Regions from separate parts of the Homo sapiens genome. Here region 2 is linked to region 1. Evidence: fine-mapped expression QTL. A gene starts in region 1. The other region holds a variant in brackets. All regions are shown on one strand. Distances are from middle to middle.

Region 1 (4,397 bases):
CTTGGAGCCAAAGCTGCCTTCCAGTCCTACGTAGAACTCCTCATACTGCTTGGCATAGGTAGCATCAATGGAGGCCACAAAATCCTTTAAGGCCCGCTGGAAGGCAACCAGCTCCTCAAAGGCATTGTTCAGAAGCCTGTACATAAGCAAGAGAAAGAAAAATTAGACTGGGCAGAACTCAAAAAAATGGATCCTCAAAACAGCAGACATTCTTAGATCATTAAAAACAATGAGAAAATCCAGCTTCTGCTTTCTCCTATAAGTCTCAGTAAAACACCATCCTATAAGACTCAGTAAAATACCAGAACTAAGGACCAACTTCACCTCAACTTATCAAAGATATAAAAATGATATTCAGCTAAACATTGGAAGGAGGGGCATTTGGGAGGAAAATGCCAACCACCCACTTTTTGAAAAAAAAAAAAAAAAAAATAGGTGCAGGTGAGCTACGAGGGCTTGTAGATCAATCCTGTTTCATACAAGTCCTCTCCTGAGAGGCTGTTCCAATCTGGCCAAGAGGGAAGGGAGCCATTCTCACTGACAGCCAGTATATCCCCTTGCCTCTCACCGGTTAGCCCTCTTCTCGTTTTTCCTGCGCAGGTCATTCACATTGACAATCAGCCGGTATTGGTTGTCACTGATCAGCTCCCGAACTTTGCTCTGATAAATTCCCTGGTCTTCCTGCAAAACAGCCACCACATATCACCATAGCCACAAATTTAAAAACAATGTTTCTAAACAGAAGTAGTTCTCATAGCCAGATAGCTAAGTCAATCTCTGCAGCAGAGCTGAATCCCCAGTAAGTATGTGCTCATCAATTTCTCCCTTTCATTCACTGTTTTTAGATTCGAAATAACACCCTAAGAGGGGACTATAAGAATTATAATGACTTCCTCAAGGTCCATGCTGTTATTCCCATCATCATGGACAACTTTTCTGCATGCTGTAATTTCTGTCTTTAGTGGAGAATTAAAATGAGCTCATGAGAAGTCTAAATGGACAGTAAGTGCAAACTTTGTTAAAATGTTAAGTTAAACCTAGCAATGTGAATGTTAAAGGTAACAACGTGAATAGATGGATATGTTGTTTCACTGTAGTAATCATTTCACCATGTATATCAAAACATGTGCACTTCAAATATATACAATAAAAATGTAAATAAAACAGACTCTTAATAGTCACATTAAAATGGCTTTTCATTTAAGAATTATGTAAAAAGTAATATTTTTTCCAATCATCTCTATAATACGGAAAGGGTTCTCATACCCCGACCTAAAGGAATAGAGAATCTCAGCTATTTGGTCACATCATCAACCCTTCAAGATGGTTTTTTCAACATTCTATGGCTTTAAGTCTTGGGTTGCACATAAAATCCCCTTGGCCTGCACACAAAACACTTTTTATCTGCATCTTAGTTGGTATTGAAAAAGAATGCAGCCGAATTATGGAGTCTTTTCCTCCAGGTAAAACGTCAGTCCCTAAAATCTGAGCACTCTGCAACGCGGCTGGTCACTATAGCCCTAGGGCAGCCCCTCCCCCACAGTCTCCTCAAATCAAGAGAGAGCAGTGAAATGCAAAAGGCCGAGGTGGGCTTTGCCAATCTGCTTGCACTTAATGGGAACCTGTCGCCTTTTGCGCGCCCGGACCATCGCTTGTACTTAAGAGAAAGCTGGCTTCCTAAGAGTTCACTTATCGAACACAAACTAGCGAGTCCGGCGTTGAGAAGTTACAAGATTGGGGCTGGAGGCTCGGGCCCGGCAGGCTCCGCTGCGGCACACGGTCTGGAGGTCTGGCGGGCCTCTGGCTTCCCGGCCGGGCCGCGTCCGCAGGGGCTCCGAGCGCTAGAGCCCGCGCGCCGGCGCCTCCCTCACCTCGTCGTCCAGGAAGTCCAGGTAATCTCTCTGAGCCTCCCGCAGCTCCACATCGTCCAGCACCACGGTACCCGCCATGCCCGCTGCCAAAGAACTACCTCCACCAAAGTCGCGTGGAGGTTCCCAGGATGACTCCACCCCGGCGCGAAAACTTCCGAACTCTTCCCGCCACCAAAGGTTACCTCGAGGAAGAGGCGGGGACCTTGGGAGCATATAAGCATTATGATTGGCTGAGTTCTCTGAGGTCGGACTAGCGACTGTCCAATCAAAAGCTTCTTCTTCTTCGGGTTTTCCGCTGCGCGCCCCGCGGTGGCGGGAAACGTACCATCCGGGATTCTCTGTTCCTCCCCTCCCTCCGCCTCACTCACTGACGAGCAAACTGACCAATAGGGCTGAGAGGAGGCTCACAGAGGCTGGTCATTGAGCAGCTGGAGGGGACAGGCTGGCGAGAGGGAAAGCATTGCGTTCTGGGAGTTGTAGTGTTCTCCCTCCTTTCCGGATGTTTTTGCAGGGTTTTTCAAGCTGCAGAACTTTTGACCCGATGCAACGACCAAATTCAGAGGATGGTGCTTTATAACGCAGGGAGATGAAAACATAAAAGCAAATCATTTTTAAGATATATCCAAATCAGAACTGCCCTCCAGTGGCATCCTAGTGTAAAAGTGGATTTTGAGAATCTATAGGATAGAATATAGAACTACAGTACCTTAGGGAAAGATTAGTTAAAAACCCATTTGCTATCTGATACCGTTGCCTGACGAACTCCATAAAGACATCGCCGCAGAGAAGGATGAAGTGAAAAAAAAAATCTGTGTTTACCCTGCCCCCTAGAGACTTCATCGTGTGTTATACAAATTTTGGAAACCGTTACTACTCCATCTTACTTAATAACAGGTAAATTAAAGGCTTTCTGGTCTTATAAAAAGATCACAAGATCCTTTTAAGTAACTTAGCTTACTGAACGATCAGCTCAAGAGGGGAAAAAGTGTTTCACGTCACTTTGATTAAATATCAATCAGTAACTAACAGCAAATCTGAAACCATAATGACTAAAAGATCATCGCACGTCCAAATTTGTATGTTTGTTTTCAGTCCGTCGTGGTTGGCTTTTTCTTATATTTCTAGTTTTATTTTGAGATATAATGTATATACAGTAAAATGCACAAATCTTAAGTGTACAGCTCAGTGAATTTTTACCTGTGCTTACACCCATGTAACCACTCTGCACAATAAAGAGCAAGCCCATTGCCCCAGCATGTGTTTTTAATTTTACTGAACAAGAAGCTGAAATACTGGATTGCCCAACATCAGACATTTGATAATTCTTTATCTGAAATTTCAGCCAACTATTAGCTTATGTTTTAAAGTCTTCAGGACTCACTATGTACTGATAAATATTCTAAGAATAATCTGCCTAAACAAAATATATAGGCCATCTATTTGTGTGGGTATATGTATTTCTAGTTATTATTCAGTTTATAGTTACTGTATGTTTTGTGCCATCCTAGTGGGCAGATAAATCGATCCTTAGCCAAAGCAAAAAGGCTGTCATTTGACTGCTTGCTTTTATGTTTATTAACGGGCAAAAAAAAAAGAAAATTCTAGAATAAAGATACTGTTTGCCGTTATATAGCAAGAGGTAATTACTGATTTATTAAGACTTTTTACTCATAACTCTTATTTTATGAACTTATTGGACAGAGTACTGAGATATCCTCTGCTCTGGAAACAATTTGAAATTAACACTAAAAGAACCGGGAAGCTTAGTTCAAACTAGCAAAGAAGTCGAGTCATTTGTAGTAGAAAGTCCAAAAGAGTGGAAATCTGAAAACCACATCTTTGATTCTCACACTTTTTTCTGGGCTTGTTTCCTTATATACAGTATAAGATGAAGAAACTGAATTAGAATATCTCTGATAATCTGTCTTACTCTAACATTCCATGAGCTAATGGCAAATTTGGAAACTATGTAAAGACAATTCTATTTAATGAATTAATCATGCCATGGTCTTTGATAAAGACTTGATTTGTCCCAATATAATCATCTTCAGCTGTGAAGGACACACCGCTATTTAATTGGTGTTTCTCCCTTCTTTCATTAGGGCATGAAATCTTTAAGCAGAGGAAATGTATTTCCTTTGTTATCCCCGACACCTGCAAACTGCCCAAAATCAATCAGGTTGTTGCTACAGAAAAATTAGGGGCATTTGTACATATCTCATAAAAAGTCCAGCTGAGCTTAGCCCGTAGTCCTCCTCTATCCTGATTCAAAATTAAAAAGCACATATAATCTAATAAAGTAGTGTATCTACAGTTTCCATACTTGGGTCACATTCCTGCTTTCCTCCATTTCAATTTTCTTTCCACCCTAGACTTTAATGGACTCAAGCCCATCTCCAAGGCTGCCTAAACGCTAGGGGGCTCCCTGGAGAGCAGAGTATACAGGAAGAGAATGGAAAGAAAACAAGATTGCAAAGAGATTGCAAAATAGATGTAATACTGCCATTTTTCTATGTCCTCAGGGTC
Region 2 (4,397 bases), 850 kb after region 1:
GATTCCCCTACCTGGAGCTGGCCAAAGCTGAGAGTCAATAGTTAAACATTCAGGAATTTTGTAGGCTGATTGTTAAAAATGACTGCTGGCTTGAAATCAGCCACGGTGAGAATATTTCCATTACAGAAGTTGGCAAATGCTACAAATCAGGACATTTTCTTTTTGGAGAGCTGGTTTACCAGCATCCCACTAATTCAAACCCAGGCAGTCTGAGTCAGGGTCCATTCTTCACCACTGTTGGTGCCACTGCCCCATTAGTACTCTTACACATTCTACAGAAAACTGGGACGTGGAAGAGGAAAATCACCTGCTCAGGTTTAAAGACCGAGTAAAAAGTCAGAGCTGGTGTTCAAACTCAGATTTGCTGAAGGCTACCAGCAGCATGCAGCATGCGGCATGCTTAGAAGCACTGTGCTAACCTCAGTGTGACTAGATTAGCTGCCACTTCTCCTGAGAAGTAGAAGCAGAGACAGGCAGCTCCCCTTCTAGAGCTCCCCAGCACTTCAAACATCTATTAGAAGTGCAGGGGACAGATACTTGCTCTCTTAGAGTGTGAGCCCTCGGGGATGGTGCAGGATCTCATTCACAGGTGCATTTCTAGCCTCTGGTGAAACTCCTCAGTAATGAAACTCTCACGTAACTAACTCAAAAATCCAACCTGGAAAAATATAAAGCGTCCGTCGTGCCTCCAGAAGTTGGTGACCGGGAAGCCCCCATGACCTCGGCAAGGGATGAGCTTCAGAGGCCCGTCACAGTTGGGACAGCGTTTCCCTACAAAAGAGCAGAGGAAAATGACCACACCTGGCTGAACCATGTCGGTTGTTGACTCCTGTGCAGTCTTGAAGATTTTAGCCCTGACTCAAGGACGGCAGAGTATAAATCTGGGCAGAGTTTCATGGGCTGAAATCCACTAGATATTACCCCTGACCCTCAGAAGCCTGGCCACTAAAATGGCCCACATGGGTCTCACACATGGATAGGGGAAGTGGTTGCCTACCAAGTAGGATATTTCACAGGTCAAGGCAGAGCTCTTCTGAGCAGAAAACCCCTCCCTACTTATTTAGTGATATTTGAAATTCTGACCAGGCACAGTGGCTCACACCCATAATCCCAGCACTTTGGGAGGCCAAGGCAGGCGGATCCACTTGAGGCCAGAAGCTCGAGACTAGCCTGGCCAATATGGTGAAATCCCATCTCTACTAAAAATACAAAAATTAGCTGGGCGTGGTGGTGCACACCTGTAGTCCCAGCTACTAGGGAGGCTGAGGCAGGAGAATCGCTTGAACCTGGGAGGTGGAGGTTGCAGTGAGCCGAGATGGCACCAATGCATGCCAGCTTGGGTGACAGAGTGAAAGTCTGTCTCAAAAATAAAAAAGAGAAGTTCTTTCACTTCACAATTAGAACTAAGGGTCAAGGGGCCAAGCTACATGGGAGAGTGAATGCAGCTACTACATTTTCACAGAGGTGTAAATGACTGATACCAGGTCCTGACCTAAGAGCAAGTTTTTAAAACAAACTACTGGGAAAAATATAAAGTAACTTGAGGTTTGAAGTGGGCAATGTACAGGGCATGCTGAATGTATCTATTTCATAATCCAGTGAATGTGTTTTAGAAAATGAACAAATATCTCAGCACGTGATTATGATGTGAACCTAAATGAATGGAATTGAGTCTAACCTTTCACAGCTGCCACTCCACATTAATGCACACATTGAGATCACTTAGGGACCCACAAGAAGTCCAGTGGCAAGTCCAATAAACTACTTTCTTCTAAATTTTACATGGGT[C/A]ATTGATGAATTAACATTAACCCCTGAAGGGATACATTTTTCCTTTTATTTTTGGATGGAGTCTGTCACCCAGGCTGGAGTGCAGTGGCACAACATTGGCCCACTGCAACCTCCACCTTCTGGGTTCGAGTGATTCTCCTGCCTCAGCCTCCCGAGTAGCTGGGATTACAGGCACACACCACCACACCCGGCAAATGTGTGTGTGTGTGTGTGTGTGTGTGTGTTTGTGTGTTTTAGTAGAGATGGGTCTTCACCATATTGGGCAGGCTGGTCTTGAACTCCTGACCTCAGGTGATCTGCCTACCTCAGCCTCCCAAAGTGCTGGGATTGTAGGCATGAGCCACAGTGCCCGGCCATTTTTCCTTTCTTTTTGGAGATAGGATCTCACTCTATTGTGCGGCCTGGAGTGCAGTGGCTCCATTATGGCTCACTGCAGCCTTGACTTTCCAGGCTGAAGCAATCCTTCTGCCTCAGCCTCTGGAGTAGCTGTGACCACAGGCATATGCAACCACACCCGACTAATTTTTAAATTTTTTTGTAGGGGTTGGGGTCTTCTTATGTTGCCCCGGCTGGTCTGGAACACCTGGCCTCAATTTATCCTCTCATCTTGGCCTCCCAAAGTGCTGAGATTACAGGTGTGAGCCACCACACCTGCCATCTTCCCTTTAACAGGAGCCTTCAGTCCAGTGCCTTAACCCAAGGAGGCATTTTTGATGGTGGGTGCTCTGGGTATGGCAGATATGTGGGGTCCTTGCTGGAGCACAAGGGATCTGGTTGGTTCCGCTCCATATGCTCCATGTCAGAACAGCCTTGGCTGCCACTACACTCCAGGGTGATGGTTTTGCCCTTGGGCGGTGCTGGGACACAGTGACCCATCTGGCAGGGGCATCTGAGGGATGCCAGCTTTTTTGCTGGTGCCACTAAGCTCTACTCACGCTGCTGCTTCTGCCGGGCCTTGTCACAGATGGCAGGTCTCAGGTAGATCTTGCGCCCCTCCTCTGCGAGACAGTCGCGGCCGCACACCACCACACCCAGGCAGGACTTCTTGAGGATGCGGGAGTTGTGGTTGTTGGTATTGCGCATGGCCCAGCTGCTCAGGTGCCGCTGCGCATTCTTGTCCTCCGAGCTGTAGATGTGTTTGGCATAGGAATCTGGCCACTCCTGGAACCAGTCGGTTTTTTTCACGTTCTGATAGAAACACAAAAGATACGACTATACTTTAAGCTAGAAAACACAGCTGTCACCCACTGTGGAGTGAGTAGATAGGAAGGATGTTTTGGCATTCAGGAGCTGGGCAAGAGACCTTTGGCAAAAGCCTCCCTACATTTAATTCTGACAGTGGGATCAGCGAGCCCAGCACAACAGTGGCAACTGAGTGCTGTGTCTGTCAGGCATTCAGCCGCTGGACCAAAATAAATGATAGCCCCTGTGAGTTCCATCTGATTGACACTTCCCTAGCCCTCAGTGACACAAGAAATGACCATTTCTCAGTAGGAATTTTTGAAGGTTAAGTAATGCTATGCTCTTACACAATAACTATAGAAAACAGGGCCCAGTGTGGTAGGGTGTGCCTGCAGTCCTAGCAACTCAGGAGGCTGAGGTGGGAGGATGGCTTGAGGCCAGGGGTTCAAGACCAGCCTGGGCAACACAGCAAGACCCCTTCTCTAAAAACTCAAAATAAACTGTGGAAAACATTGTGGCGGGATAGTGAGATAATGTCTCGTACCACTCTGTGGTTATCTTACTGGGAGTCACACAGGTTTATGCAATGTCGCCAGAGATAAGCAGTGGGAGGGATGAAAAGCCCTGGTTCAGAGAGATCAAAGAGCCACTTTCTTCCCCAGAGATTTTCTTCCTTTATCTTTAACCCTACGTTCACGTGCCTCAAACATGACAAGGGAGTAAGAAAGAGCTTGTTTTGACTGAAAGCGTCTCTGTTATTGCCCAGGATTGGCGCTATGCCCTGTGTATGAACATTTGACTAAACTCTCCTTTAAAACATCACAGACAAGGAGAGTTGTCATTCAACGGACAAAGTTTCCATTTGCAAGATGAAAAGGTTCTAGAGCTCCTTTGCACAACAGTGTACATATAGTTACCACGACTGTACTATGCACTTAAACATGGTTAAGATGGTAAATTTTAAGTTGTGTTTTTGACCAAAATAAAATAATAATTAAAGAAAGGCCAGGGACACCAGACACTCAGTCCTTATAGCATACATTATTTTGCTCTCTGTGCCTCTGTTTCTTCATCTGTAATGTAGGGATAATGAGACCTGCCTACCTGAAGAGTTGTTCTGAAGATTAAATATGATTATATATATTAAATACTTAGCACAGCACCTAGCATGCTGTAAGCTCTAAATAATTGTTAGTCACTGATGCTGTGGCTCATATTCCTAGGCCCTACATTGGTGCACAGATGCTGCATTTGACAGACCCTTCCTTGTTCTTAGAATGAGAAACAGCAAGCAGTGTCAGCACTCAAACTTAGGCTGTGCCCATGCCCTACGGCTTTCAGAGACTTAGCATGGTGTAAGAACATTTTTCATCTAGACGGTTCTAGAAGGTGAAAATAGAAGATTCTAGAAGGTCCAGAAGAAAAGA

The links.
Region 2: its variant is fine-mapped to the expression of MCM3 in prefrontal cortex (GTEx, PIP 0.95).

Annotation. Positions count from the first base shown.
Region 1 is chr6:52,282,726-52,287,122 of GRCh38, forward strand. It overlaps MCM3 (minichromosome maintenance complex component 3), which reads right to left and starts at 2,017. Exons shown (of 17, transcript NM_002388.6): 1 at 1,872-2,017; 2 at 569-681; 3 at 1-136. The coding sequence starts at 1,949. RefSeq lists enhancers at 1,895-1,974, 2,295-2,494.
Region 2 is chr6:53,131,349-53,135,745 of GRCh38, forward strand. GCM1 (glial cells missing transcription factor 1) reads right to left here. Exons shown (of 6, transcript NM_003643.4): 3 at 2,724-2,976; 4 at 659-771. Among named protein-coding and RNA genes, the nearest start is that of GCM1, 15 kb to the right of the region's middle. The variant C/A (reference allele first, on the strand shown) is at 1,789.